Regions from separate parts of the Homo sapiens genome. Here region 1 is linked to region 2. The links come from fine-mapping of genetic effects on gene expression. A gene starts in region 2. The other region holds a variant in brackets. All regions are shown on one strand. Distances are from middle to middle.

Evidence for each region. PIP is the estimated chance that this variant, and not a neighbour inherited with it, causes the effect.
Region 1: its variant is the best candidate, but not a certain one, in a credible set for the expression of IBA57 in whole blood (INTERVAL, PIP 0.73).

What each region holds. Positions count from the first base shown.
Region 1 is chr1:228,044,920-228,047,419 of GRCh38, forward strand. The region is part of intron 2 of WNT3A (Wnt family member 3A); the gene reads left to right. Among named protein-coding and RNA genes, the nearest start is that of LINC02809, 30 kb to the right of the region's middle. The variant G/C (reference allele first, on the strand shown) is at 1,229.
Region 2 is chr1:228,164,126-228,167,152 of GRCh38, forward strand. IBA57 (iron-sulfur cluster assembly factor IBA57) reads left to right here and starts at 1,679. Exons shown (of 3, transcript NM_001010867.4): 1 at 1,679-2,032. The coding sequence starts at 1,692. It overlaps IBA57-DT (IBA57 divergent transcript), which reads right to left and starts at 1,387. Exons shown (of 2, transcript NR_103540.1): 1 at 1,349-1,387; 2 at 1-367. LOC124904534 (a long non-coding RNA gene) reads left to right here. Exons shown (of 2, transcript XR_007066913.1): 2 at 25-1,057. RefSeq lists an enhancer at 1,264-2,166 and a silencer at 1,271-2,310.

The sequences.
Region 1 (2,500 bases), 120 kb before region 2:
TCTTGTCTTCAGTCTTCACGAGTGAATTGAAGGCCTGCTCCAGGGTTTTCTCAGCCTGGCAGGGAGCTCCACCTCCACATGTGATGGAAGAGAAAATCAAGGTTCAGCCAGCTGGTGACCAAACTGAGCAAGAATGAGCTCTTTTCTGTCCAAGTGGAAGCCCTCAGCACCACCCGCCCTTGCCCTTGAGTGTGTCTGGCTATTGGGGCTGTTTGCCTGAGTTTTGATAAGCAGGGATCTCGAGGCCCTTGTTATGGGCAGGGCATGAGTGAGGCACAGAGAGCCCTAGCCTCAGGCTCTGGTTCTCCTCTTACCAGAAGCTCAGGAGCAAGAGGGAGGGGCTGGCCTTGGAGACAGACTCTTGTAGTAGCCAGGCCGTGAGGTGGGAAGGCAGACTCAGCTGGGGTGGGGTATTCAGGGTGTGGGATGCCCAGGCCATTTGGGAGTGAGAAGGTCCGGCCAGGAGGGCAGGTGGAGCTGTGTGCCATGCGTGAGCTCCAGGAGCACCCAGGACACTCCTCAACTCTACCTCTCAAGCTGCCCTAGAAGGGAAGCAGGGCAGATGGCAGGGGAAGGGGCGCTGACTAGGGAGGGGACGACCTGAGTCCTTTAAAGACAAGAACAGGCGCTCAGGCCTGGAGGCTTAGAGAGGAAGTGCTCTGCATCCAGCCACACGTGTATTCACTCAGAGGCAGTGGGTTCAGCAAAGGCCCCTCCAGGCCTGTCTGTGAACTGATCAGTTGTGTTAGGGAAGTAACATGGGGTCAGGGGTGGGGGCTTTAAGTTTCTTGGAGAGGTGCGGAGGAGGTGGCTGCCTAGCTGCTCCCTGGGAAAGGAAACAGCGGAGGTTGCATGATGGGCCTGGGTGCCTTAGAGGGGCAAGGGTGGGTCTGCTCTGGGTAGGCTCAGACCCTGCTCATTCCTTGACTCAGCCCACGGCTCCTGCCTTTCATTCTGGCCCCAGGAAATATCTATGGGCTGGGCCTTGTGCTCCAGATTGCAAATAAAAGGTGAGCCAAACAGTCCCTGCCCCTAGGCAGCCGCGGCTAGGGAGGGAGTCAGTGGGCAAATCTTCCTGGTTGGGGAGGGGCAGCCAGGTGTAGAGGACACCCGATCCCTGGCCGCTCCCCTCAGAGCAGGCAGGGGCACAGCAGGTCCAGCCTGAGCCAAGGAAGGAACCGGAAAGAGCCCGAGGGGAGGACAAAGGGCTGAGTGCGGCCTGAGGCCA[G/C]GGAGTGGCATTGAGGTCAGGAGAGGAGATAGATCCAGAGGGGGCCTGGCATGGCCAAACTGGCATTGGGCGAAGACCTCAGCCTGCAGATAGTGTGTTGCGAGGGAGAGGTGTGCATGTGTGTGCATGCATGTGTTTGCATGTGTGTGGTGCACATGTGGAGGGGTGTGTGTGTGTGTGCATCTGTGTGCATGCATGTGTTTGTGTGTGGTGGGTTGTGAATGTATATGTGCATCCGTGGGAGGTGTGCATGTGTGTGGTGTGTATGGTGTGCATGCATGCATATGTATGTGTGTGCATGTGTCTGTGTGTGCATTGCACGAGGCGTGCATGTGGGGGTTGTGTGTGCATGTATGTGTATGGTATTCATGTATGTGTATGTGTTGTGTGGTGTGTGTGTGTATTTGTGTGTGTGCATGTGCATGGGGTGGGGTGTGTATATGTGGGGTATGTGCATGCATGTGTGTGCATGTGTATGGTATGTGTGGTATGCCTGCATGGTGTGCATGTGTGGGGGGGATGTGCATGTATGTGAGTGCATGTGTATGCTGTGCTTGCATGCATGTGTATATGTGTTCATGTATGTAGTGGGGTGTGCATGTGTGCTTGTGTGTGGTGGGGTGTGCATGTGTGTGCATGCGTGTGATGTGTGCATGTGTGTGGTGTGCATGCCTATATGTGTGTGTTTGCATGTGTGTGTGCATGTGCATCAGGTGGGGTGTGCATGTGTGTGTGGTATGCATGTGTCTGTGTGCGCACGCATGTGCGCATGTGGCTGTGCATGCATGTGGTGGAAGGAGGAAGCTGGAGGCTGGGGCCTCCTAGGGGCCTCTTCATGGCGAGGTGGGAGATGGACCCACAGATAAGAACCAGGAGGGGCAAATTGGCTGAGAGGCCCCAGGGCCACCTGGGAAGGCCACAGCAGCCTGGGCGGCTGGGGCTGTTTCAGGACTGGACAGTCTCCAGCCAGCAAGCAGAGCCCTTCCTGAGCTGGTGGTGGGAAGTGGATACAGAAGAAATGGACAGTTTTCTTCTGGGCTTGTGGCTGGATGCAGTGGGTGTCCAGGCCTGACTTGGACAGGGCCCTAGGGAGGGACGGGGCTGCTGGGACCCGCCATCAGGGGGCTGTTGGCCAATCCACAGAAAAGTCAACCAAAGCAGGCCCGAGGGGCTCAGGGGGCTTTGTCAACAGCCAGGGGGATGCCAGTGCAAAGCCATAGCCTCAAATACCTTCCACTTTGTATGTTCTTGTTATGGGAGCAACGTGCGTTC
Region 2 (3,027 bases):
ATGAGGAATTTTTTTATTCAACAGATACAAAGACCTCTGCTTGCTGGGACTCTGCACCATAAGGACACATTGAGTAAGTCTTCTTTGGTGCTTTGAGTGGAGGGCAGTGGAGAGGGGAATGTCAACAGGGTGCATGGGCCCCAGGAGGCCAGCAAGGCAGGGATGGCTTGGACCAGGGCAGTCAGACTCTAGGGCTGAAGGCTGCTGGGGCCACCTTGTAGATGTGTCACCTACTACCAGGGAAAGTGGCCACTGTACAGGGCTGCTCAGCAGGGGGTATGGGACATCACTCCTCGAGAAAGCACGGTGGGGTGGATATGTCATAGCAGTGTGTGGTTCCTGCCTAAATTGTCCTCTGTGAGTTCAGCTGTGAAGAGAGGACGAGAGTTATTGGAAGGACGTCCTGTGGTCTGGAAGGACGTCCTGTGGGAGGACAGGCTGGGCTCCAGGGGAGCTTGGAATCCTGCACTGAAGAGGACTATAGACACATGATGGGGGTGACCCTGGCCTGAAAAAAGCAGAAGTTACCAAGGATGTGATTTGAAGCTGTGATTGTGTCTCATCATGTCACACTGATTAGGGGTGCGGAGGGGTTGTGGGCTGGATGGTGCCTGTCCTTATCCGTGGAGACACTTGGGGATGGAGCCTCCTGCCACCTGCAGCTGAAGTCCCAATGGTCCAGCAAATGAAAAAAATGACACAACAGCCACACGTGGACGCTGGCGAACTGGTAGGAAAGAGGAAGCGGCCGGGTGCGGTAGCTCACGCCTGTAATCCCAGCACTTTGGGAGGCCAAAGCCGGTGAATCGCTTGAGCCTAGGAGTTTGAGACCAGCCTGGACAACATGGGGAGACCATTTCTACAAAAAAAATACAAAAATTAGCTGGTGTGGTGGCTAGCGCCTGTAGTTCCAGCTACTCAAGAGGCTGAGGAGGGAGGACTGCCTGAGCTCTGGAGCTTGAGGCCAGCCTGGGCAACATAACCAAGACCCTGTCTTTACAAAAAATAAAAATAAAAATAAAAATAAAAATAAAATGCTGATACATGCTAGACCGTGGATGGACTTTGAGAATACTATGCTGAGTGAAATAAGCCGTCGCAAACGACAAATCCCGTAGGATTCTGCTCCTGTGAGGTCCCTAGAGGAGGCACGCTCATGGAGCCAGAAGGTACAATGGGAGCTCCAGGGCCTCGGGAGTGGGTGTTTAACAGGGAGTTTCAGGTTGGGAGGATGAAGAGGTTCTCGAGATGAGTGACGGTGCCCGACATGGGTGGGTGAAAACGAGGAAGGCCACCGAATGGGACATGGGATGGCGCTTAAGAGGCCGGCAGAAACCTCGTTACCTACCGAGGGTGGAGCCTGCGTGCTGACGGATAGGCCGAGTCCCCGCCCCGAAACACACCCCGCGCACGATGCTCCGCCCCACACGCATGCCCCACCCACCCAGCAGGCACGCTCGCCCCGCCCGCCCCTTCCAGCTCGGGAGGCCCTGCTCCTCACGCACGCACTCTCAGTCGGCCTCAACCGGCGCTGCTCCGCCCCTCAGGCACGCACGTTCCGTTCACCCCTCACGCACGCACTCTGCGCCCGCCCCTTCCCGCCTCCCTCCGGCGGCCACCGCCAGGGGCCGCTGTGGCACCCGCCCCTCCCGCTTCCTTGGGCCCTTCCCGCTGCCCCACTCTTGTCCAAGATGGCGACCGCGGCGCTGCTTCGAGGCGCCACTCCGGGGCGCGGCGGCCCGGTCTGGCGCTGGCGGCTGCGCGCGGCCCCAAGGTGCCGCCTGGCCCACAGCTCCTGCAGTCCTGGTGGCGACCCAACGGCCGGAGCGGCCTGGGCCTGCTTCCGGCTGGACGGGCGCACCCTGCTGCGCGTGCGTGGCCCCGACGCGGCGCCCTTCCTGCTAGGGCTGCTGACCAATGAACTGCCGCTTCCGAGTCCTGCGGCCGCGGGGGCCCCGCCTGCTGCGCGCGCGGGCTACGCCCACTTCCTGAACGTGCAGGGCCGGACGCTCTATGACGTCATCTTGTACGGGTGAGCGCGTGCTGGGAGGGCGCTCGGGGGCGGGCACCCAGGGGAGTGGCCAGGGACCGGCACCCAGGGACAGGGCGGGCGCCCGGGGCCTGCAGAGGGCGTGGGGGGTGGGCACCCGGGGAGGGCCGGGATGGGGTGGAAGCTCAAGGGTGGGTGGGCCAGCGACTGGCACTCAGGGTCAGGCACCCAGGAGATTCCACTTGGGATGGACACCCAGGGGAAGCTCACCCAGGGCCCAGCACCCGGGGGAGGGCACCCAGAGGAGGGCTTGGCTCAACACCCAGGGATGGGTCAGCGACTCATCCAGGGGAGGCCTGGGGGCCAGCCCACCATATCAGAGCAGAGGCGTCTCTAGGTGGGCACCTCCCAAGTGGGCCATCTGGTGACCCTTCTCCCTCCGCAGGGACAAGGGGTTCAGGGGCCCCGCCTGGTGGCAGAGCTGTGTTTCTGAGTGACAGCTTGTGGTGACACTCCCGAGTTCTGTTTACCTTGTGTTTCCCTGTGTCTCCCCATAGCTGGTCACATTGGCATTTGGCTCAGTCATCTGTGCTGACATCACGACTGTCAGTGATGTTCATGCCGGGTCAGGGCCTTGACTGCTTACAGCCTTGGGTTTCCCTTGCCCAGCTTCCAGGGACCTGGATCCCTGAAACCTCCGCCCGGTGGAGTGGATCTGGTTCGCGGCCGCCTGCCTGCTGTCCCTGCTATGGCGGACCCGGTTCTTGTTCTCTTCAGCTTACTCCTGTGTTTTGGTTTCAGGGGATGGACACCTTTTTAATGACTTCCTGAGCTACGTGGGGTGAATTTTTGGACTCATTGTGTCTCTGCTAGTGGCTTTACCTGATATCCTGGCTGGGTGTAAAAATCTAGCTTGGAAATTGTCACCGACAATGTTCACATCACAACTTTGTTTTCTCGCTGCCAGCTTTTCTGAGAAGTCTGGTGCCGTTCTTATTTGTATGTGAACTGTGTTTTTCTCAGAAGCTTTTCTTTAT